2 separate regions of the Homo sapiens genome follow, and region 1 is linked to region 2. Evidence: fine-mapped expression QTL. A gene starts in region 2. The other region holds a variant in brackets. All regions are shown on one strand. Distances are between the middles of the regions. Region 1 holds the start of GPR150 (G protein-coupled receptor 150). Region 2 holds the start of ARSK (arylsulfatase family member K).

Evidence for each region.
Region 1: its variant is fine-mapped to the expression of ARSK in sun-exposed skin (GTEx, PIP 0.97).

The regions. Positions count from the first base shown.
Region 1 is chr5:95,617,861-95,630,342 of GRCh38, reverse strand. GPR150 (G protein-coupled receptor 150) reads right to left here and starts at 10,256. Exons shown (of 1, transcript NM_199243.3): 1 at 8,201-10,256. The coding sequence starts at 10,067. The coding sequence ends at 8,763. LOC112267933 (a long non-coding RNA gene) reads left to right here. Exons shown (of 3, transcript XR_002956221.2): 2 at 6,902-6,977; 3 at 7,308-7,490. RefSeq lists silencers at 8,626-8,685, 8,906-9,355, 9,064-9,358, 9,376-9,425, 9,516-9,915 and enhancers at 8,389-8,888, 10,085-10,700. The variant A/G (reference allele first, on the strand shown) is at 6,364.
Region 2 is chr5:95,548,147-95,560,628 of GRCh38, reverse strand. It overlaps ARSK (arylsulfatase family member K), which reads right to left and starts at 5,528. Exons shown (of 8, transcript NM_198150.3): 1 at 5,225-5,528. The coding sequence starts at 5,350. It overlaps SKIC3 (SKI3 subunit of superkiller complex), which reads left to right and starts at 5,652. Exons shown (of 43, transcript NM_014639.4): 1 at 5,652-5,693; 2 at 9,979-10,048; 3 at 11,914-12,069.

The DNA.
Region 1 (12,482 bases), 70 kb before region 2:
TTCTCACAAGATCTAGTTGTTTAAGTGTGCAGCACCTCCCCACTCTCTCTCTTGCTCCGGCTCCAGCCATGTAAAATGTGACTGCTTCTCCTTCACCTCCTGCCATGATTGTAAGTTTCCTGAGGCCTCCCCAGAAAAGAAGTCACTGTGCTCCCTGTACAGCCTGCAGAACCATAAGCCAATTAAACCTCTTTTCTTTATAAACTACCCAGTCTCAGGTATTTCTTTTCTTTTTTTTGAGACGGAGTTTTGCTCTTGTTGCCCAGGCTGGAGTGCAACGGCACAATCTCTGCTCACTGCAACCTCTGCCTTCTGGGTTCAAGCAATTCTTCTGCCTCAGCCTCCCAAGTAGCTGAGATTACAGGCATGTGCCACCACGCCCGGCTAATTTTGTATTTTAGTAGAGTTGGGGTTTCTCTATGTTGGTCAGGCTGGTCTCAAACTCCCGACCTCAGGTGATCCGCCCACCTCGGCTTCCCAAAGTGCTGGGATTATAGGTGTGAGCCACCATGCCCGGCCTCAGGTGTTTCTTTATAGCAGTGCAAGAATGGACTAGTACAGAAAATTGGTATCATGAGTCGGGGATTGCTATAAAGATACCTGAAAATGTGGAAACAGCTTTGGAACTGGGTAATGGGCAGAGATTGAAACAGTTTGGAGGGCTCAGAAGAAGACAGGAAGATGAAGGAAAATTTGGAACTTCCTAGTGACTTTTGTGACCAAAGTGCTGATAGTAATATGGACAATGAAGTCCAGGCTGAAGAGACCTCAGATGGAAATGAGGAACCTATTGGGAACTGGAGCAAAGGTTACTTTTGTTATGCTTTAGCAAAAAACTTGGAGGCATTGTGCCCCTTCCCGATGGAGCAGTGAAACTTCTAACTTGAGAGTAATGATTTAGGGTATCTAGTGGAAGAAATTTCTAAGCAGCTTAGAAATGTGACCTTGCTGCTTTTAACAACCTGTGCTTATATGTATGAGCAAATAAATGACCTGAAACTGGACCTTATATTCAAAAGGGAAGCAGAGTGTAAAAGTTTGGAGAATTTGTAGCCTGGCCATGTGATAGAAAAGAAAAGCCCATTTTCAGGGGAGGAATTCAAGCAGCCTGCAGAAATTTGCATAACTAAAAGGAAGGCAAGTGCTGATAGCCAAGACAATAGGGGAAAGGCCTCAAAGGCATTTCAGATCTTGTGGCAGCCCTTCCCATTACAGGCCCAGAGGCCGAGGAGGACTGAATGAATTCCTGGGCCAGGTTCAGGGTCCCCCTGCCCTGCACAGCCTAAGGACACTACTCCCTGCATCCCAGCTGCCCCAGCTCTAGTCATGGCTAAAAGGGGCCCAGACACAGCTCAGGCTGCTGCTTCAGAGGGTGCAAGCTGTAAGCCTTGGTGGCTTCCACATGGTATTAACCCTGTGAGTGCACAGAATGCAAGAGTTGAGGCTTGGGAGCCTCTGCCTAGATTTCAGACCGTGTATGGAGAAGCCTGGATGTCCAAGAAGAAACCTGCTGCAGGGGCAGAGCCCTTACTGAGAACCTCTACTAAGGAAGTACAGAGGGGAAATGTGGGGTTGGAGCCTCCACGCAGTCCCCAGTGGGGCACTGCTAATGGAGCTTTGAGAAGAGGGCCACCATCCTCCAGACCCCAGGATGGTAAAGCAACTGACTGCTTGTACTCTGTGCCCAGAGAAGCCACAGACACTCAATGCCAGCCCTTAAGAACAGCTGCAGGGGCTGAATCCTGAAAAGCCACAGAGGCAGAGCTGCCCAAGGCCTTGGGAGCCCATCCCTGGCATCAATGTGCTCTGGATGTGGGACATGGAGTCAGTCAAAGGAGATTATTTTGGAGCTTTAAGATGTAATGACAGCCCTGCTGGGTTTTGGACTTGCATGGGGCTTGTAGCCCCTTTCTTTTGGCTGATCTCTCCCTTTTGGAAGGGAAATATTTACCCAGTGCTTTTACCACTATTGTATCTTGCTAGTAATTAACTCGTTTTTGATTTTATAGGCTCATAGGAAGAAGGAACTTGCCTTATCTCAGATGAAACTTTGGACTTCTGAGTTAATGCTTGAATGAGTTAAAACTTTGGGGGACTGTTGGGAAGGCATGATTATATTTTGCAATGTGAGAATGACATAAGATTTGGAGGGGCGAGAGGTGGAATGATATGGTTTGGATCTGTGTTCCCACCAAATCTCATGTTGAATTGTATTTCCCAATGTTGAAGGTAGGGCCTGCTGCGAGGTTATTGGACCATGGGGGCAGAGTTCTCATGAATGGTTTAGTACCATCCCCCATTGGTACTGTGTAGTGAATGAGTTCTCATGAGATCTGGTTGTTTAAAAGTGTGCAGCACCTCCCCTACTCTCTCTCTTGCTCGTGCTCCAGTCATGTAAGATGTGCCTACTTCTCCTTTGCCTTCCTCCACGATTGTAAGTTTCATGAGGTCTCCCCAGGAGCAGATTGTAAGTTTCCTGTGGTCTCCCCACTGTGCTCCCTGTACAGCCTGTAGAACTGTGAGCCAATTAAACCTCTTTCTTTATAAATTACCAAGCTTCAGGTATTTCTTTACAGTGGTAAGAGAATGAACTAATACACTACCCCATCACATTTTATTATTGTCACTTTCCAATCTGGCCATGGAAAAGGGCAGCATAATAGCAATAGTTGGTCCTAAGTTTTCACTCAAAAGCTACTTTTAAATGAAACATGTATCTGTGATAAGTGATATATATCTATGTATGTAATAAAGGTCATATAGTGCTTTGCATAGAATGAATCTTTATAAGTATCAAATAATTGAATGAGTTAATTAATAAAATTAGCAATAGAAAGAGTTTGCAAATAATATTCTGTAACATTAATAATTGTAGGTTGAAGCCAGGCACAGTGGCTCACACTTGCAATCCCAGGTACTCAGGAGGCTGAGGTTGAAGCATTGCCTGAGCCCAGGAGTTCAAGACTGAAGTGTTATGTGATTGCCCCACCACACTCCAGCCTGAGTGACAGAGTGAGACCCTGTCTCTAAAAATAAAAATAATAATAACTGTAGGTTGAGGTTTCTCAACAAAATGCTTATCATAAAAATTATGGTTCTTTGTAGAATACATAGCTTTTAAAATGTGAGAGTTGTAACGGATTTTCTCGGATTTGTCCCATTGTGCCCAATGCAATGTCCAATGCAGTGCCTCAGTACATACTGGTTGATGGACTAAATAAAAGTATACTTGGAATATTCCTATTTTTTGATAAAGAACATAAGCCATTATGCAATAGGCTAAAATGGGACTCTCTTTTTCTTGCCAAACTTCTACTTCAGTTAGAGATTGCTTTGTGCTACAAATAACAAAAAATTCAACTCAACTGCTTTAAGCAATAAGAAATTGTATTGGCTTATTTCCTAGGACATCCAATAGCCAGGCCTCAGTAGCGTTTGGTCTTGTCAGCACAGTGAGTTCATTAAGGACCTAAGTTCTTTTCATCTCTCCACTTTGCCATATCCACAATGTTGACTTACTCTTGTGGCTGGCTTCCCTCTTGGTGAGAAGTGGCTGCCAGCAGCCATTAGGGTTACATGCTCCCTCATTTACCTTTAGTGTGAACAGACATTGAACATGCTAACTTCTATGGCTTTCCCAGAAGAGTTAAAAGATTCCTTCCTAGATTCCCTAAAAAACTTCCCTCACTCTCATTGCATCCCATGACCATTCCTGAGCGAGATATGGTGGCGAGAGGGATGAGAAATTACTCCAGTGGCATGGACTAATCAAGTCACAGTCTTGGAGTTGGAGAGCACCGAGGTTTCCTCAAAGTGCTGACTTTTTATAAAAGGTATAGACATTCTAATAAGAATCTGAGAACTGTCAGAAAAGGAGAAATAAATGCTAGGAAGGCAATGAACAATGCCCACTACTCCTTCTGTAAGGCCCAACTCCCTACTTTTAAGTACTACCATTGCTGCATTAATTTTCCATGACAATTCTCCAAGATCTATTGCTTTCCTTCATGTAATATTATTCAATTGGATTTTTATCCCTCATAGCCAGTATTAGAAAATAACATTAGCTATCATGTATTGAGGGAATCTGAAGAAACAAACCTAGATTCCCCTTACCTCCACCCAATCAAATATTTTGCGTACATTATCCTATGAAGGACATAGTATTAACTCCTATTTTCTTGATGAGAAAACCAAGACTCAAAAATATTCAGCAAACCGCCTGAAGTCACACAGCTACTAACTGTACAGATGAAAGTCAAGTTCAGGTCTTTAGACTCTGAATATTCTACTCTTTTCATAATATTATATTGCCTCCCAACTCAGCAAAATATATTTTAATTTAAGAAGAACAATTCATTTTTATTAGAATATTTTCCCTTTGATCAAGTCAGAACATTTTTAGGAATAGAAGGCAAACTCCTCAAATTTTCTAACATCTTCTGTGTTTCTTAGGACATACCTTAGAAAAAAATGCTTTAAATCTGTCTTCCACAAGATAAGCCAGACTATTCTATTTTTTGAATATTGTTTATAACTAATCACTAGTGTGGTTTATTACTCCTGGATGTTTTCTGCATTCTTTGCATTTCAAATTACAACATAAGTCACATTTACTTATTTTGGCCTTATGTTACTGAGGTTTTTCTTTAAGATGTAGAATTCTTTGCATTTAGTCTTTAAAGTTCTATAAAATCAGGACCACCACATTGCTCAGTTCTGCTGGTGATGTTCACATCTTCATCAATATGAAAAGTGCTCCCTGAAGTCCTGTGTGCAGTAGTTTGGTTAAAATCTAACTCCAAAAAATGTAGAGAATAGAGGAATGGTTTGTCTCTATTTTATAGGGCAACTTTGATTTCTTCCAAACTGCAAGTGTGTAGATCTGGTTTCTCTTCTAGTCGTTTCCTATTTGGGTGATAACCTAGAAAAGAGAGCAATTTCGGGGTCAACCTGTGTATTTGCCTTTGCTGTGTGATGTGAATATTATGTTCTACTCTAGCAAGAGTCTAAATCTGAATAACCTTCAGGGGCCTCCTTGACTAGGACACAGCTGAATCTCTGTGTTGCCTCTAGAAATGCAGATTAGGGTCAACACAAATAGGATGGCCATCCTGAGGAAATATCTCAAATTTCCTAACCTACAAATGCCTCCAGGGATGGGAACCAAGTCATCTAGTTATGTATTCAAGTTTCAGATATGGTTAAAATTAGAGGAAATTCCTTGCTTAAAGAAGAGAAGCATTTCCGTATAAATTGGGCTTAACTAAATCTACAAAATCTAGGAAAACATCAGTTTAATCGGATTTCAAATTAACTTCTTGAGTTGGTATTCTATATTTCCAACCCAGATGAAGAATTCTCAAAATTTCTAGGTAACAATGAGCTGAATACCCCTGTTGTATTGTAAAAACCAATCTAGATAACACTTTTGCAATAGTTTAAAAGTTTTATTCTTGCCTTTTTAACTAGCATTTCCTCTTCTTTCTTTACTGTAGAGCCTCAGTTTTTTCATCCCTCCCTCAATACAATTCATATGCTCAGTTCCATGTTCAAGCCAATCATGGTGGCCCCATTTCTCTTGCAATGATAGGTCTAAATATGGACATGTGATATAGTTCTGGCAAATGAGCCATTTAGGAGAGTCTACTGGGGACTTCTGAGACATGTTGTTTCATTTCTATAAAGGGTACAAAAAAGAGAAATCCTTCTTCTTCTGGACATTGTTACATTTGAATGTGATGCCTGGAATTGCAGCAGCCATTTTGTGACCTCAAGGGGAACTGGCCTGAGTGTCAAGTCCACCACTCAAGATGGCAGACTGGAAAGAGGAAAAGGATCTGAGCCCTTGTATGAGTGAGGCTGCTCCAGAAAAACAGAACCAATAGCATTTATATAGATATATAAGAGGAGATGTATTACGGGAATTGGCTCACGTGACCATGAAGGCCCAAAAGTCCTACCATATACTGTCTGCAAGCTGGAGAACCAGGAAAGCTGGTGGTAAAATTTAGTCTGAGTCTGAAGGCCTGAGAATGGGGGCTGTGGGGGTTTGTGCTGCTGGTATAAATCCTGGAGTTTGAAGGCCCAAGAACAGAAGTGAACTGTCCAAGGACAAGAGAAGATGGGTGTCGCAGCCCAAGAAGAGAGAGAGAGGATTCACATTTCCTTTGTCTTTTTGTTCTATTTGGGTGGGCCCTCAACAGATGGGATGATGCTTGCCACCTCTGGTGAGGATTGATCTTCTTCACTCAGTCTACGATTTGAATGTTAATTTCTTCTGGAAACACCCTCACAGGCACACCCAGAAATGATGTTTTACCAGCTATCTGAGCATCCCTTAACCCAGTCAAGTTGACACAT[A/G]AAATTAACCGTCACAGCCCTTGATTATGAAGTTGAGCTACTTACTTAACCAACCCTGGCACAGCCCTACCACCAGACTTCTTGTCATGTGAAATAATAAGTTGAAGCCAGCTGAGTAAGCTTTTCTGTTAGGGTAGTCTTAACTGCAGAAAACAGAAAACCTGTCTCAGCTGCTTTAAATTTATTATCTCTCTTGAGCGCATTCGAAGTGGTCCAACATTAGGAATCGTATTCTGAAGACTCTCTGAGATTCTGCCTTGATTTCTCATCTAAGAATTCCCCCCTACCCTTCCATTTGGTGATCCTTCATGCCATCATTGAGATGACCTTTCTAAAATTGAAATTGGGTCAAATTATAACTGATTAAATTCTTCAAAGGCTACTTTTTGCTTTCTTGGCTTGGCACACAGACCTGTCTTCACTGGGGCCAGGCTGAATTTCTCTGACCACGTATCTCATTAGGTCAGGCCCCAAAGGCACCCTAAAGCTATTGTCATTACTTGACTATGCTATGTTCTGTCTCTTCTATGCTTTGCAGTGCTATTCCCGTTGCCTAGAACACCTTTCCTGACCTGAAGGGTCACCCCCAAACCAGCCTTCAAGAGCTTCTTTTGGTGAGTCTTTCCTAATGTCCCCTCATAGTCCCCCAAGATTGTCAGATTCTCCTCTTCAGTTCTTCTGGCACCCTGACTGAATTCCCCTGTTATAACACAGGTGACACTGCAGTGTAATTGTCAGATTGTTTCCTACATTTGACTATAACGTCTTTGAGGGAAAAATGTGACTTATTCATCTCAGCATCTCCAATGCCTAGCTTATTAACTGGCACAAAATAAGCAGGTAATAAATGTTTATTAATGAATAAATAATGGTATAATCTAGACTTGGGTTCATGAAGACAACTGTATCCTCTCTTTGGCTGATTTATTCCTGGTATTTTGCAGACCATTGCATCCTCAACAGGGTAAGGAGGAACAAAGAGAGGAAGGAAAAGCTACAACTCTGGAACATCTGCTGTCAAAATTTTGGAGGAAGGTAAAGAAAGCTTAGTAAAGATTTTCTTTCGTATATCTTTTATTTGTTCTATCTCTAACTCACATGATGAATTGTTCAACAAATATATATTGAGAGCCTACTACATGTCAAGCATTGTTTAAGCATTTGGAATATATTAGTGAACAAAACAGCCCTCAGCATTGGCTCTACAAAGAGCTTTAAACAATCATTTCCCCTTTCTGCATCTTAGGTCTGCATTTGTGCATGAACAAGAAACACTATAATGGAAAGCTTTAGATCCTCATACAAAAATCACTGATAAACCCATGGATATATTGTTCATAAGTGCTGCCACTTCTGTCTAGAACCAAGAACAGTTGAGAGGAAGAGGTTACTGATCAAATCCGCTCTTGACCTTGTTCTCAGCTATCCACACCAACAGGCATTGAATTCATTTTTTTAACAAGGGAGTTTTATATACACATGCAGCATTCTGAGGTTTTGACTTCCTTCCTAGCTGCAAATCTCTTTGAGGCTCCATCTGGGACACTGAGCCCCACCCATATGCACCACCTTGAAGCTTCCTTTCTCTGGTTTGCTGGGGACTTTGTACGGAGAGGCTCCATCTGGGCATAGCATTACACCTTTAGAGGCTGCTGGGGGCACAGGGACGATTTCCAACAGAAACCAAGTATATTTGAAAGACACCAAGTCAAGCTTTTGTTTCCTTCCTACAACCTCAGCTTCTGTTGAAGTGGAAACTAGACTGGAAATAAAGGCCACGCTGATTTTCTTCTGAGAAAATACATTACTATGTTAAAAAAAAAAAAGTCCCAATTGCTCCGTGGGAAAGGTTTTTATTTTATAAATACTCTGTGGCTCTGAAATGACAGCATGATTACATTTCTGACAGCACTGGTATAATTCTCAGACTCCCCAGGGAGAGCAACGTGGGGATTTTCCTCCTGGAAAGAAAAGGCAAACTTGCAGGTGCTGAAGGTACATTTGATTTAAGCACGATTCAAAATAAGTAAATACAGATGATAACACAGCAAATACTGAAAGTTGGGTAATCAGCAAAAATAAATGGCATTATCCAGAGCACTATAAATGCGTGAAAGAAAACTGCAAAAATAACTGTTTTTGTTTTTACAACTTTCCAGTGGCTCACTGTCTCCAAATGGGGAGATATGAGAGGAACTGTAGGGAAGAAGAGAAACTGGAAGAGCATAGGGAAATGTAAACATGAGAAGGGAATAGGAGAGTGGAGGAAGGGGACAACTTCAGTGTCACTCTCTCACAGACTCTCCTGCCCCTTGTGATCTGGACAGACCCTGGCAGGCCTCGAGTTCCCTGGAGGTTGCGCCTTAGCGACAGATGACCCGTCTCTGACCACCAAGCACCTAGAAGGCACTTTCGCAGGAGCAAGGCAGGGGTCTGGGGCGCGGAGGGGGTGGGCGCAAGCCGCCCTCGTCCAGCGGTTCCCGCCGAGCATGGTGATAATGAGGGTGGGGCCAGCGTTGGCGGTAGAGCGCCTGGTGGCCCCGGGGCCCCTCCTCGTCCTCCGCGCCTCCCTGCGGCGCGCAGCACAGAGAGCCCAGCCGCTTCCGCAGCTGTCGCCGGAGCCGGCAGTCGCCCGCCTGGAAGAAGAGGTAGACGAAGGGATTGAGAGCGCTGTTGGCCATCGCCACCACGCGCAGCGCCGCCGACAGGCCCTCTCCCTCCCAGTCTCCCGCGGGCCCGGACGACCACGCGGCCGCCAGCCGGGCGGCAAAGTAGGGCAGCTCGCAGCCCACGAACAGCAGCGCCAGCAGCAGGCTCATCTTCAGGCTCTGCACCTTGGCGCGGGGCAGCGCGCTGGGCGCAGGGGCTCGACCTGGGCTCGCCGACCAGGGCGCTGCAGCCGCGGGGGCCTGCGGCCGGTGCCGCCACCAGACGGAGAGTAGGTGGCCGCAAGCGACGCCCAGGACCGTAACAGGCGCGACGAAGCCCGCGACGGCCTCGTAGAACGCGTAGACCTGCAGGTGCCAGCGCGGCAGGGGCGCGAAGATCCCGTGGCAGCGACGCTCCCCCGGCCAGGCGCGGGCGGCCGGGGGCGCGCCTGGCTGCAGGGACGTTGGCGGCGGCGGCGGCGGCAGCGGCGAGGGGGAGTCCCCGCGCACCACGAAGGCCGGGGGCAGCGCCAGCAGCAGTGCCAGCAGCCAGCCCAGGGCGGCGAGGGCACGCGCGGGCAGCGGCCGGCCGTGCGGAAGACGCACCGCGCGCCGGCGCTCGAGGGCGATGAGCACCACGAGGTGGGCCGAGGCGCCCCGCCCGGATGCCTGCAGCAGCTGCAGGAAGCGGCACGCCAGGTCCCCCGTGGCCGCGCGGGGCTCGCCCAGCAGTTCCCAGGCCAGCTGTGACAGCGCCGTGCCCCCGCACGCGTACAGGTCCGCCAGGGCCAGCTGCACCAGCAGGAAGTCCATCTTGCGACGCTTGGGGCCCGCCCAGGGCCCGCCGCCGCCGCACAGGCGGCACAGCACTGTGGTGTTGCCTGCCACCGCCACCACCAGGATGACCCCCAGGAACACCAGGCGGACGCGGCGGCTGGGCGGCCCAGAGGCAGGGGCTCCTTGCCCCAAGGTCAGGTTGAGACCCCAGCCCAGCAAGATGGGCACGGAAATGTTGGGCGCCGGCGGCAGAATTGAGGGGCTAAAGAGATCCTCCATCCTTGTCCCGGAGGAAGAGGAGGCACCGAAGAGGGCGGGCAGGACGCGGGAAACCAAAGTGGAGGCGAGGCGGCGCGGGGAGCGACGCTGGGTCTATACGAGTTCCCAAAGTTAGTTGAAAAGGCACACGCACAGAGAGGGAGATGGATTCGGGCGGCTTTGCGCTTAGTTGTTTTTGTCGATTGTCCTCGTGATTTGTCACTCAAATGTGGGTTGTACACTCGAGGAACACACATGATTCCTATTCTCCACCTTCCCCGCGTCTTCCCTCCCATTCCCGGCGGGTACTCTTCCAATCTCTGCAGCGGCCCCCGACGCTACCCTCGCGGAAGCCGCGGACCCCTGGGCGCTGAGAACCTCATCCATTCTCTATTTACGTGTAAAGCACAGCAGGACAGAATGTCGCTTTGCTTGGCCATTGTATACGGCCAGTGTTATGCCAGCACCCACACAAGAGAGGACCTCTTGACTGAGATTGTACCACACGCCCCCACCACCCCAATGTGATTGCCAGTAGGAAAAAAATAGAAAAGACATTAGTTTTTATTTTAAAGGTTTGAAATGCCATGGATCTGCACGAGCATGAGAAAAACAGGAACACAAGAAACCTAACAGCGTTTTGAGCAAAGAGGAGACCTATTAGCTGAATTTTGATCAAGATGTGTCTTCTCTGTCCAAGAATGAAAGTATTTTAATTAGAGGGTACTAAAGTCAATGATGTTGCTTTTAGGAGTGGCAGTGTTGCAGATCGTTCCAAATACTAGGAGCAGTGGGTCACAGCTGCTTTCTTGGTGATGTAAAATTCATTTCATTAGTCTGAAGAGGGCATTAATAGGTTTTATGCAAATGGTAGTGCATTTATTGCTTTTCTCCTAATATTTTCATCCAGTGAAGGATGCGTCATCACACTCCTCATTCTCTTGATTCTGTTTTCCAGCAGATGGGAAGTTGCTAGGAGGGGCTACGCCTCCAATAAGCCTAGAGAAAAGGTGACTAAGAAAGTGATAAGGCGGCCAATTTTTTTAAAAAAGAAATCCAAGTCACAGGAAATGGTTTAGATTAAATGTTGCTGCTTTCATTTTAGCCTTGTCTCCTCACAAACACATTTTAGTTTCCCTGTTGGAAGCATCCATTTGTCTTTTTATGCACCCTCCACGTTAATCATGGTGAAAGTAGAATTTCCTGTACTTCCTGGCCTGGGGGCCAGGGAGGTATGAGTGTTGTCTAGGGTTCACATTCCCAATCTGAGGAAACATTTGGAACTTTAAGATTCATGGCCTAGGAAGATTTGGTGGGTTCCATGATAGTCCTGCCAGCTGCTGTAGGAATCCCATTTCCCAAGCTGTTGTCCTTTGGCCAGAAACCTTGGTTATTTTCATCATCATCTCTGTGGTGCCTCGCTCTGGTCTGACAGGTTGTAGTTATCAGTGGGTATGTGTTGAGTTGATGAATTAGTGGATATACGATGCTTTTCAGATACCTTCGAGCATAAATGCCTGCCTTGACTATAAATCCATCACCTAAGAAAAAATTCCTTTTATACTATGCCAGTATTGTCCAGAGGAGCCCAAGGAAGCTCTGTGGAGACATAGGAATAAGTGTTCCTGGTGGGACATTTAAGAAAGCTAGAGTGATAGCCTTGGAAAATCTAAAATCCTGGTTTGATTTTCATACTCTCCCTTTAGAACTTTTTATCCAAGGCCTTTTTCTATGCACACACATCATCCCAGTTTATAATGCACTTCTTCCAGGGAGCCTTCTCTGAGCAATGTTCATCATTCAGTGATTTTCCTAGCCAGTATCATTTCAGTGTTTCTCAAGATAGTCTATCATTTGTCTCAAATTTGTTGAAATGCTCTTATATATTAGCATTTCAAAATGACTATAGTGAAATTTCACAGAACTTTAGTAAGATCTGATAAAACATTGATTTTCAACAAATTCTTTTTTTTTTTTTTTTTTCCCTTTTTGAGACAGGGTCTCACTCTGTTGCCCAGGCTGGAGTGAAGTGGCATGATCATAGCTCACTGCAGCCTCGACTTCCTGGGCTCAGGTGATTCTCTCACCTCAGCCTCCCAACTAGCTGGGACTGTAGGCAGACACCACCACACCCAGCTAAGTTTTGTATTTTTTGTAGAGGCTAAGTTTCGCCATGTTGCCCAGGCTAGTTTTAAACTCCTGGGCTCAAGAATCTGCCCACCTTGGCCTCCCAAAGTGTTGGGATTACAGGCATGAGCCACTGGGCCTGGCCTAAACTAATTCTTATTAAAATTATACAATGCACATAGTTTTGAAAGTCAAATGGAACTAGAAGGCTGATAACATAAAGAGTTCCCTGTCCTATACATCTCCACTTCTTTATCCCCTCTTTCTAGAGGGAACCAATTTAGACTCTATTTGCTCTTTCTTCTGGCA
Region 2 (12,482 bases):
TTTCCAGCACCATTTGTTTAAAAGATCATTCTTTCCCTATTAAATGGTCTTGGCACCCTTGTTAAAAAATCAATTTACTATAAATATGAGAGTTTATTTCTGGACTTTAGATCCTATTCCATTGATCTGTATGTCACCTATCCTTAAGCCAATAACATACTACATTGATTGGTGTAGTTAAGATATAAGCTTTAAAATTGGGAGGTGTATGTCTTTCAACTTTGTTCTTTTTATTTCAAGATTTATTTTTGGCTATTCTGGGTCCCTTGAATTACCATATGAATTTTAGGATGGGTTTTTCCATCTCTGCAGAAAAAAAAAAAGGTTCTAGGGATTTTGACAGGCATTGAATTGAATCTGTAGATCATTTTGGTGAGTACTGCTATATTAACAATATTAAATCTTCTGATCCATGAAAAGGGGATGTCTGTTCATTTATTTAAATGTTCTTTTATTTCTTTCAACAATGTTTTGTAGTTTTCGGAGTATAAGAACTATATTTCCTTGATTAGATTTATTTTAAGTATTTCATCCATTCTGATGTTACTTTAAATGGAACTGTTTTCTTAATTTGACTATAAGTGTGTTAATCAATTAAGTATATAAAATACAATTTATTTTTGTACACTGATCTGGTATACAGCCTTACTAATTTATTAGTTCAATAGTTTTGTAGTGGAGCCGTAGAATCCTACATACAAGATTACTGCAAGTATAGATACTTTTACTTCTTCCTTTCCAATGTGAATGCCTTTTATTTAATCTTTTTTCTAATTCTGTGGCTAGAACCCCCAGTACAATGCTGTATAGCAGTGGTGAGAACACACATCCTTGTCTTCTTCCTGATCTTAGTCAGAAAACTGATTTTTTTTTTCTTTTAACCATTCAGTGTAAAGTTCTGGCTTTTTTTGTAGATGCCTTTTAGTTCCCTTCTATTTCTAGCCAGTTGAATGCATAAGGATTGTCAAATCTTCTCAAATGCTTTTTCTGCATCTATTGAGATGATCACATGGGTTTTGTCCTTTATTCAGTCAACATGATGTATTACATTAATTGATTTTCAGATATTAAACTCACTGTACATTTTGGGGACAAATTCCACTTGGTAATGGTGAATAATCCTTCTTACATACTAATGAATTTGGTTTCCTAGTACATTTGTCCCTTGGTATCTGCAGGGGATTGTTTCCAGGACCTCCCAAGGATACCAAATCTTTGCGGGCTCAAGTCCCACAGTCAGCCCTGTGGAACCCATGGATAGGAAAAGTCAAGTTCTGTGAGTTCCACATCCCATAAATACCATATATTTTTATCTGAGATTGGTGGAATCTGCGGATTCAGAACCTGTGAATATGGAGGGCCAAATCCATTTTGTTGAGGATCTTTGCTCTTATATTCCTAAGGGATACTGGTCTGTGGGTTTCTTTCCTTGTGATGTATTCGTGGCTTTGGAATCAGGCATGAACTGTTTTTTTGTTTTTGTTTTTTGAGATGGAGTCTTGCTCTTTTGTCCATGCTGGAGTGCAATGGCACGTCTCGGCTCACTGCAACCTCTGCCTCCTGGGTTCAAGCAATTCTCCCTGCCTCAGCCTCCCGAGTAGCTGGGATTACAGGTGCCTGCCACCACGCCTGGCTAATTTTTGTATTTTTAGTAGAGACAGGGTTTCGCCATGTTGGCCAGGCTGGTCTCGAACTCCTGATCTCAGGTGATCCACCCACCTCGGTCTCCCAAAGTGCTGGGATTACAGGTGTGAGCCACCGCGCCCGGCCAAACTGGTCTTATAGTTTGGAAGTGTTCTCTCCTAATTTTTGGAAGAGTAGATGAAGAATTAGTATTAATTATTCTTTAAGTATTTGGTAGAATTTATCAGTGAAACCGTTTGGGTCTGTGCTTCTCTTTGTTGGTAGTTTTAAAATTACCAGTTTACCCTCTTTACTTCTTATAGGTCTATTCAGATTGCCTATTTCTTCTTGAGTCAGTTTCAGTAGTTTCTGCCTTCCTAGCAATTTGTCCATTTCATTTATCTAATTTGATGACATACAGTTGTTGTATGTAAGTATTCCCTTGTAATTCTTTTATTTCTTAAGATAATGTAACCATTCTCTTTCATGATTTTAGTCATCTAGCTCTTTTGTCTTTTTTCTTGTTCAGTATAGCTAAGGTTTGTCAATTTTGCTGATTTTGTCTAAGAACCAATTTTTGGTCTCATTGATTTTCTCTACTATTTTTCCATCCTCTGTTTCTTTAATTTCTGCCCTAATCCTTATTATTTCCTCCATTCTGCTTGCTTTGCAGAAGCTTGTTTGGTCTTCTCAGCTTGTCTCTCCTGGTATGGAACCTCTGTCCTACTAGAGAGCTAGGGCCAGGGCAATTAGGGCCCTAGGATTCTCAACTTTCCGCACTTGGCATAAAGCCTCTGTCCTGTAAGTGGGGGCTGACTGAAGTAAGGGAGCCCTCAACTTCTCAGCTGCATTCATTAGGAATTTAACCTCTCCAACTTGGATTAGGAGAAGATGAGAAATCTCACAGCCTGTCCCTTTTGGTGAGATACCATAACTGGTGATTGGGAGCCGAGGGGGAGTAGTCCTATCTTCTTGGCCACACCCACCTGAGTGAAACCTCTGTCAAAACTATAGTTCACTGCCACAGACCCTTCTTGCTATTCTTACCAAGTTTTCATAGATTTTCTTGAATAAATGTTTCTTCATTTGGTGTATGACCTTAGGACAGTTTCCAGACACTTTAAGTGTTTCAAATATTTAATAGTTTTTATGTATAGTTTAAAAAAGAGTTTTCATTTGGTTTGCTTGTTTTCTTGGGAGTTGATCTACAAAGCTCTTGCGTTGTTATCCTGAAAGTAAAACCAATTTGCTATTTTCTTCCTACAATTATTATCCAGCTTAACTGCTCTATCTTAGCCTGCAGAGTTTTAGAAATGATAAATCACAGTGTCAAGAATCTAACAGCATACCAAACTGGTATAATCATAGAGAGAGGAATTATTTTAAGTTTAAAGACCAACATTTTTACTATATAGTTGAATATACCTAAAACAAAAACTTCAAAGAAACTGTAAGCTGCACTCAGGACTAGCATTATTTCTAGTAATATTACAGTCTTATTTTCAAACACATTGATATATACATATTATATGTTTGGATAAAGCAAATAAGTAATTGCATTAATGCATTTAGACCAAAATATTTGGCATAAAACAAAAAAGATATAAGTATAAAAATCAAAGAATAAACTTGTAATCTTAAATTTGAATGGAAAGTATCAGTATGATCTCACAATTTATTTTTCTCATTCTAAAATATTATATACTTTCTAGATTTGTCCACTGGAAAGGTCTAGATGCAATGAACACCCTAACACTCAGACTGTGGTCTCTAAATACAAGATGGGACAGGAAATATGTATTGTGGACATGGAACTCTGTTAAAGCAAGCTGTCAAATACTAATGGGGATGGGTCAAAAGGACTCAGAACCACCTGAAGGGGCTTCCACTGGCCAAAGATAGGACAGTTTGAATATTAACAAGTATGTGAATGCAAAAATTTTTTTTATTTTTTATTTTTTAAAAATTTTTTTATTTTTATTTTTATTTTTTTTTCGAGACGGACTCTCGCTCCGTCGCCCAGGCTGGAGTGCAGTGGTGCGATATCAGGTCACTGCAAGCTCCGCCTCCCAGGTTCACGCCATTCTCCTGCTTCAGCCTCCCGAGTAGCTGGGACTACAGGCGCCCGAAACCACGCCCGGCTAATTTTTTTGTATTTTTAGTAGAGACGGGGTTTCACTGTGTTAGCCAGGATGGTCTTGATCTCTTGACCTCGTGATCCGCCCACCTCGGCCTCCCAAAGTGCTGGGATTACAGGCGTGAGCCACCGCGCCCGGCCGTGAATGCAAAAAATTTAAGCACAAATATAGAAAAATCTATGCATTCATACTACACTAAAAAAAATAACAAACCTATATATCTCAGTCATCTTTGGAAGTTTCTGGGATGTTGTGATCCACATTCGGATTCCCTTTTAGGAATGAACAATTGCCTCTGCTGAAGACAGCTGCTTTGCCCAACACCATGCCCCATTCTAGGAGCAGCCCACAACCAGTGGCCATCCAACATGCAGGTGGAAAGGTCTGTTCTCCTCACTCCTATTGGAAAGCAGCTCTGAAGCACCATACTAGTTTGAGAACTGTCATTCATAAGATGGCAACAAAATTCAGCTTCTCCTCTGCACAATCCTGCTTCCTTCATTTGCCTTTGATTACAAGAGCACTCTGTAATAAAATGCCATCTAGTCAATTTCCAGTACTGCCCATTCTCTAAGTTTAAATCACAAAGATAACTTTAAGTAATATTTTCAAAAAATCCCATGGGCACATCCAGACTATGTAATTTTAATCATCAGGAATCTACGAGAAAGGAAATACAACATATGATTACAAACACTCTTTAGTGCCAGATATGCTTAACACCAACATCTGTGTGACCACAGTAACACCGAGTGATAATAAACTAATATTACAATTAATAACCAAACAATTGTCTAAGCAGCACTTTTTAAAACATGGATCATCCTAAAAGCATCGCGTAAGGTTGACAGTAGCACCTTTGGCTTGGGAAAGTTTCAAAAACTGTTTAAGTTTGGGATTCAGCCACATTACCAACACACACACATACACACAATTTCTCTGGAATACGGGGGAGTGAATCAAGTTATACCAACGATTCCATTTGAATCAGCACTAACAGGATTATCACAGACCTGGGTAATAAAAATAAACTTTCTTCACTTCTCACCCAAACATGAATTCCTGCAAACTTGAGGTGAACTGGAAAATGACTTTTGGAAAGCTAACACGCTTTTATGGAGATGCAGAATGTTATTTTACCACACAATTAAACCAAACGGGGGTATGGACTGAAAGTTCATTAGTCGTGGTAAAATAATTTAGCGAATCGAGGTCAGTATTAAAAAAAAAAGATCTGCAAAGATGTTTTCAGTGTTTCACTATTGTTTTACATGTTTGCATAGGTATGTGGTGTACGTGTGAGTACACGGGGCCTCACATAAAATGTATTTCTTTCTTTGCATCGGGGTAAAAGGTGTTTGAAAATGTCTCAGGTTCTGCTCCCCAAAGCCTGCAGCACAGGCGGCGGCGGTGAGGTCGCCGATCCCCAGCGGGGCGCCCCTCCCCTGCCTCGCGGTACTTACGAAGGAGTCGCTCACGACCAGCACCACATTGGGCGCTTTGGCTGCTCTCCGCCTCTGCTCCCCTGCTCCGGGGGCCAGTACCGCCAGCGCCAAGGCTGCGACCACCGACACCCACAGCAGTAGCATCGCCGGTAGCGGTTCTGAGAGCCTGCCGCCGGGCCAGCCGCCTCCCTCTGGCGTTCTCTCCCTAGCAGAGCAGGGCAGGGACAGCGAACAACTCCCAAAGCTTGCAGTTTGGTTGCTTGATAGTAACGCCGAGCTTCACCCGCAGAACTACAACTCCTATCAGGCGGAGAGCGCGCACATGCGCAACAGAGAAATTCCCGCTTTTACCCACGTTAAGACCTTTTAATCAAATACCGAGCAAATCAGAACCCAGCCACTTCCAGTCACGTGAATGAGTCCTGGGAAAGGCGCATGCGCTCTCATTGCAGCCTCGGCGTTTGTAGAAGAGGAGCATCTGCTCCAGGTGGGTTTGGATTTCTGTCGGTTTTGCACAAGGGATCCTAAAGGCGATTGAAATGGTACTTAGAGAAAGAAAGGATCGGGGCCGGGGCTGTTCATTTTGGGCCGCGCAAGCGTGGCTGAGTGTTCGGCGAGAGCGTGAACTGGGCGGCGATGAGGTGGCGGCGCGGCTGTCACTTAAGTTGAATAGGGCGGTGCCTTGTGGGGCCTCTGGGTGGACCGCCTCAGGTGCGCCGTGAATGCCTTAGACCCCCCCGAATACCTTCCCAGGGAAATCTCTAGCCTGTCTCATCTTATTGCTTCTCTTACCCCGTGCAGTCAGGATTTACTGTGCTCCCATGGGGCGAGGAGCGGGGCCTAGTAAGAAGTTTCAGGCTGTAGGCAGGGGAAAGCATAGCTGTTCCTTGCCTTCAGAGAGCAAAGGAGATAAGCGAAACTGGAGGGGGAAATGGGCTGTGTGACATGTTCAGTTAGTTGACGTAGGTTCAGAATATCATTGTTTTGCTGCAGAATAAAAACCGGTCTCTTTTGACTGTTGAATTCCTTTGGAGAGTTCTGGAAGAAGCAGATTTCTGTCCCAAAGCCAAATTCCAATTTCTGTATCTAGTTTCGGGTATATAATTTGCACATCACACTAGTAGTTTTAATATTCTGACAGTTAAAAGAGGAGTTATACTACTTACTTAAGTCAACTGAATACTAATATCTGGCAGGTTTTTTTTTGCCTAAGATAATTGTAGTAAGGAACAGATTTGTTTATTTAATACTCACATGGCACTTAGGTGCTGAGCGTTATACTAAGCATTTACTGAGCATCTGCTGCGTGCCACGTACTTTTATATGGAATATTTTCTATAATCCTCACTTTCACCATATTGCAGATAGGAAAACAGGCTTAGAGAGGTTAAATGACTGGCCTGAGTTTACACAGGGAGCCAGTCAGAGCACGACTGAAAATTGAAGAGTCTGTGCCGTAACTCACTAAATGCTCTGTCTGCAGTTAGTTTATCTGTTAGTGTAGCAGAATTGTTACTCAAGCAGCATGATAAAGATCTGCGGGAGCATGCAAAAACGTAAACAGTGTTGGGCGCGGTGGCTCACGCCTGTAATCCCAGCACTTTGGGAAGCCGAGACGGGCGGATCACCGAAGGTTAGGGGTTCGAGACCAGCCTGGCCAGCATGGTGAAACCCCGTCTCTACGAAAAATACGCAAAATACTGGGCGTGGTGGCGGGCGCCTGTAATCCCAGCTACTAGGGAGGCTGAGGCAGGAGAATCACTTGAACCCAGGAGGTGGAGGTTGCAGTGAGCTGAGATCGCACCTTTGCACTCCGCCTGGGCAACAAGAGCAAAACTCCATCTCAAAAAAAAAACAAAAACAAAAAAACCCCTAAACAATAGTCTCAGTTTACATGAGTTTAGATTTCAGGGAAGCAAAACCAAGCATACATGAAATAATAATACAGCACGGAAGGTAATACAAGTGGGCTCTCTCATAAAAACAAATTTGTTTTGAGTTAATTTGGAATGTAGAACGTATTTTCTACCATAGTGACAATATTGACTGACATTTAAATTCATAAAAGTTATATTTAATTTTGTGTCTGATTCCATAAACTGTGCTTACTCTCTACAGCCTTGTTTCCACAGGACATGTACTCTGATGACAGGCTTACAAGAATACATCTTTTTCTTCTTTCTCCCCTTGGCAGTGTCAATAGGAGCAGGTGCTGCAGTGATTTGGAGCAAGACAGATATTTTAGAGCCTTAGAGACGTTGTGCTGGAAGAATCTAAGAGGCTTCTAGTCCTACTTCCCATCTGACATTCAGTTTATCCTAAAACATTCCTGCTGAGTGGATTGTCCAGCCTGTGCTTTTTCATCTCCAGTGATGGGAAACACTTCCATTGAGTACCTCATTCCACATTTATATAGGTCTCATTAAAAGTTCCTATTTTAAGTTGAAGTTAATCTTCCTCTATTTTTAACCATTCATTAGTGCATTTTTCTTCACTTTTACATGGATAATCTCTCCCTTTCAACAGTCCTTCCCCCAACTCCCTCGCCACCATTTATTTATTTTTCCTAGTCCCCAGTTTCTTCAGCTAGTTCTCATAATTTCAGGTTTCCTCATTGTTTTGATTACTCTTTTGTGAACGTACAACATTTTTGCTAATCAGTAATTCTATGCTATCAGAAAAGGTACTCAAGAGAATGTAACCATTTGCCTCACTGCCTACTTCCCTCCCGCCATTTTTCACTCCTGCATGCTCTCCTCTAGAATACTGAGTTCCGAAAGCCCTCTTTGGAAAGTGTGGGTCACAGATGCTTCTGTGGCTTGTTTTTCCCCAGGCGTGTGCTCAAAGTGTGGCTCAATAAACATCTACTGATTGAGACACTTCCCTCAGTCACTCATTTTTTTGTTAACACTGGTAAGCCTTGGAAGCTGGAAGATCATTAGCTATTTATTGAATATGTATTATCCAGTAAGTGTTGGGTATATAAGAAGCTCTGAAAATATAAGACTTACGTCTAAGAATTTATTGAATTGGGAGACATAATTGAATTATGTCTATATAGGATAATAAAAATAATATTTGTTAAGTTGCAGTTGAGTAGCTCAGTTTGGAGGTTTGGAGGAGGGAGTGATCCCTGTTGTAGGCTGTACTCTAGTATTCATGTAGTGTAGTAACTAATATGAAGAGGGTACTCATGTTTGATGATAGCTGTCTTGAGGAATACAGATGCTTCTTATGGTGGGTTACACCATGATAAACCCATTTTAACTTGAAAATATTGTACGTCAAAATGCATTTAATATGCTGATAAGCCCATCGTAAAGTCAAAAAATTGTAAGTTCAACCATTTGTAAGTCAGGGGCCGTTTGTATAGGTAAGAAGTTTACTTCTTGAGAGAGCAAGGAAGAAGGAGGTTGCAGGACGGTTGGGGATTTGAATGTGTAGGGAAAATTTTTAACACTGAGTTATCACACTAGTTGTTTTAGGAATGGCAAGTAGCAAAGTTGATTGAGAGAATAATAGTAGATAGGACATTATTAGTATAGATTATGTCCAAGTACTCCATCTATGTGTGTATCAGGTAAGTGATGTAATTCTTACTTTACCAGTGAGGAAATGGGCTTTGAGTAATGAAGTCATGTACCCAAGGCCTAATGGCTTTGATCCTAGATCCATTTGATTTCCTAAGCTCACTCTCAACTAGGGTAAGCCTTGGTGGGTGGATATGACAGAGTAAAGGGGCTGACAGGATCTAGGGTACTTTGTAAGAACAGAGTTGAAGTGACTGAGTGATAAAACTAGATTGGGTGAGGAGGGCAGCCAAGTGTTAGCAGGGCTAAAGAAGCCAGTGAAATAGTCAAGTTTGTACTTTTTTTTCTTTTTTAACTATTATCTTACTTTCCTAAACATTGTTTGGATTACCATACTTTCTTTTCTTACCAGTAAGACTTTCTACTGTTGGAGTGACACTTCTATTTCGGTAGATCACTAATGAGTGTTTTGGTTAGGGAAACTTTTCATTCCTTGTTCATCCCTACCTGCCTCACCTAAACATTGTTTACTTCCTAGTTCTGAAGTAGCATGTTTTTTTTCACTTTATTCAGTTTTTCAAAACCACTTCCATTCTCTGCAGGGACCATTCTAGATTGTTTTTTGTTTGACAGAAGCCACTTCAGGGATGCTATCAAAATATCCTTAGAATTTGTAGATGTGTAGTTGTGTTACTATTTTTAATGACTATTTAAATGCATTGTTAACATTAAAAAAATTTCTCTGTTTTCATTAGATTACAAACTAATATAATTGTATTATATTATACTCCTTATGTTCCTTAGAGAAAAGTTCTATTCTAATATAATTAGGCTGCAAATTGGGTGTAAATAAGTACCCTTAGTTGTCTGTAGATGTCCTTGATTCAAAGCAAAAATGGCACAGAAATAGTAGATATTCTTCTTTGGCTCTATTTTTTTATATTGACATCAGTGTATTTTGGGTTTCTGAAATGGTTTCTCAAAATCCTTCTGATCTCTTGTAGAAGTTTCCTTTTATCATCTGAGGCCCAGGAATATAGTTTAGACCAATTCAGAAGTTTGGAGATTAAGAATAGTGTCTCTCTGGGAAAGAATAAAAATACTAAAAATTATACATAATTATTTCTCATGTTTTAAATTATGAATTATGAAAATTGATGCGTTAAAAAGTTTAGAAGGTTTTGGGTTGTGGGTGTCATCCTTTTTATATGATTGTCTCATACTTGTTTTTGTTTAATTTAGATGGAAAATGGGTAAGGAACAATCAAATTCAATTCGGGAAGAATATAGAGGTGGTAATAATTGGTAAAAGGTAAGTGTCTACAATGCTAAATAATAAATTGGAATCTATTTTTACTTAATGATTGTTTTTACTCATTCCTTTCAGAAGAAAGATTTAATGGCATAGTTTTTTTTTTTTTTTTAATGTCAGACTATGGGTCATTACAAAATACCTTTTGTTATTAGATTTAAAGATATCGTTTTTTTTCCTTTCTGTAATTAGCTTCCGTTGTCATTATCATTACTATTTATTATTATTGTTGTTTTAGCTTTGTGGAATCTTTGTATGAGCATATTGGAATATTATTTAAGGTTTCATAGCCTCAACTGGGGACATATATATCATACCTATATATGTTGTCCTTGAGGAATATCATTGCCTTTATGGCATGACTGTCACTTTCTAACTCTTTTTAAGTGCAGTTGTTGCCACTTTTTATTCTTGATTTATGTTGGATAAAAATATTTTGGGTTGGTAGTAGAAAAACTTGAGTGAAAACGTACAAAATGAATACTCTTATTTAAAAAAAGACAGTTGAGATTGAGGAGAATAGTGGGAGGAGAGGTATAAGGCGGAAAGAATTAATAGGGAGTTATATTGTGGAAGAATATTAAAGACATCTCCCTCTCTTGCAAGAGAGCTAGATGTTTCTTTGACGTGTTAGAAATCCTTACAATGAAGGGAAATATCCAAAATAGAGGAGTATGGGGTTACGTGGAATCATTTTGGGTAGTAGGTTTTTACCCTCGGAAGGAAAATGGGTTTAAGTGGTACCTAGTAGATGGTTGGATCTCAATAAGGGTTTGTTTAGAAAATTGGTGAATGGACGTTTCCCTTTCCCCTCAAAAATAAAAATAAAAATTAAAAAAAAAGGAAGTAGTAGTTTTTAGGGTTGAAAAGGGGCAGATTATTTTGTCTTTTTACAAATTAAACTTCTGAAACTTACGTACATATATGTGTGTATGCATGAGTGAGAGAGGACCTCAGTGCTAGCGTATTGTGTTAAATGTTGCATCAAATGAAGAAGGAATTGGAAGAGAATAGAGGGTTCCATTGTAGCATGAAGAATTGTAATTACATATGGAGACATACAGATACTGAAGGACATTTAATATTAGAATTGATTACCAAGAGAAAAATGGTGTTTGTTTCTATATAGTGGTCTTTAAAAACAACCTACTTAAAAATTACTAATGGCTTCCTATTTGCTGCTGTATTTAACTTCACACTTGTCTGTTTGACTTTCAGGATCTGTAATCTGAGGCTCTATTTACCTACCCAACCTAATTTTCTTCTGTTTAATAAGTCCCTTCTGATCCATTCAGCCTGGCTTTCTCACTGTTTCCTATACTTGCCACAACTCATTCCCACTTCTGTCACTTTGCTAATGCATTTGCCTCTGAGTAGAGCAATTTTCCTTCTTCACTCCATTTTTAAGTCTTGTCATCTTCTATTAATAGAAGCCATTAATAACATCACACCACACACCTTTCCTTCTCTAAATTCCTATTGCACTTCCACTCATTACCCTTAGTTTAGCATTTGATTATTGAATGACTTATATGTCTTAAGTCTTTCTCTTGATTTAGATTATATTCTTTATATATTTTTTATATCGTGCACAGCAAATAGCTTGGGGGCTGCATGTAGTTTAGTAGTGGTTGGTCCTGCCTTGTTTGTATACATACCCTCATGAATGTTGGGTGATAGAAGAGATGGTGAACTTCCTCCTTATGTAATGGTTGTGGTCTTTTGTTTGTTTTTAATTTGAGACTGTTTTTGTTCCTTTTCAATTTGGACATCTTTTGATTTTTTTACTTGAGTGTCTCTTTTTGTCTCTTTTTATTGATCTAGATCAGTTGTCATCATCCTTGATGTTATTTTCTTCTTTTTAGTCTGCAGGGTTTTTTTTAACCAAAGGAAACTGGTTTGAGAAAATTGTGAAATCAGCATTGAAATTTGTTACCTACTCCAATCAAGATTTGCAAACTACAAAAAAATCATTCTGAAGCTTTCACCTATAAATATATACCAAGATAATTTCAGATAAGGTAGTAGTTTCTAAAGCAAGAACATATGAAATATGGTGCTTTAAATTATATAATTATTGTAACTAGGCAAAAAAGTTACTTATCTGCCTATTTAGGGAATCTGGTTCTAGCTGTAGATAAATTGATTTTATGGTATCTTAATTTTTCTATTATTTTGAATCCTAACATTTTTTAAGTCAAAAAGATTAAAAAATATGTATCTAACTTCTCAAACTTCTTTGGTCTCATACTTCTGTGTTAGCTTCTTCTTTGGATATAAAGGACTGTCAGTGTACCATGTCAGTGATTCATCTTTTTGGTACATTTTACTCCCTTGAGCATCTGAAGCCTATAAATACTTAATATTTACCCCAGCTTTGTTTTACCTTTCTATGAGATTAGAGGAGCTGACAGAAAATACAAATATTTCTTTT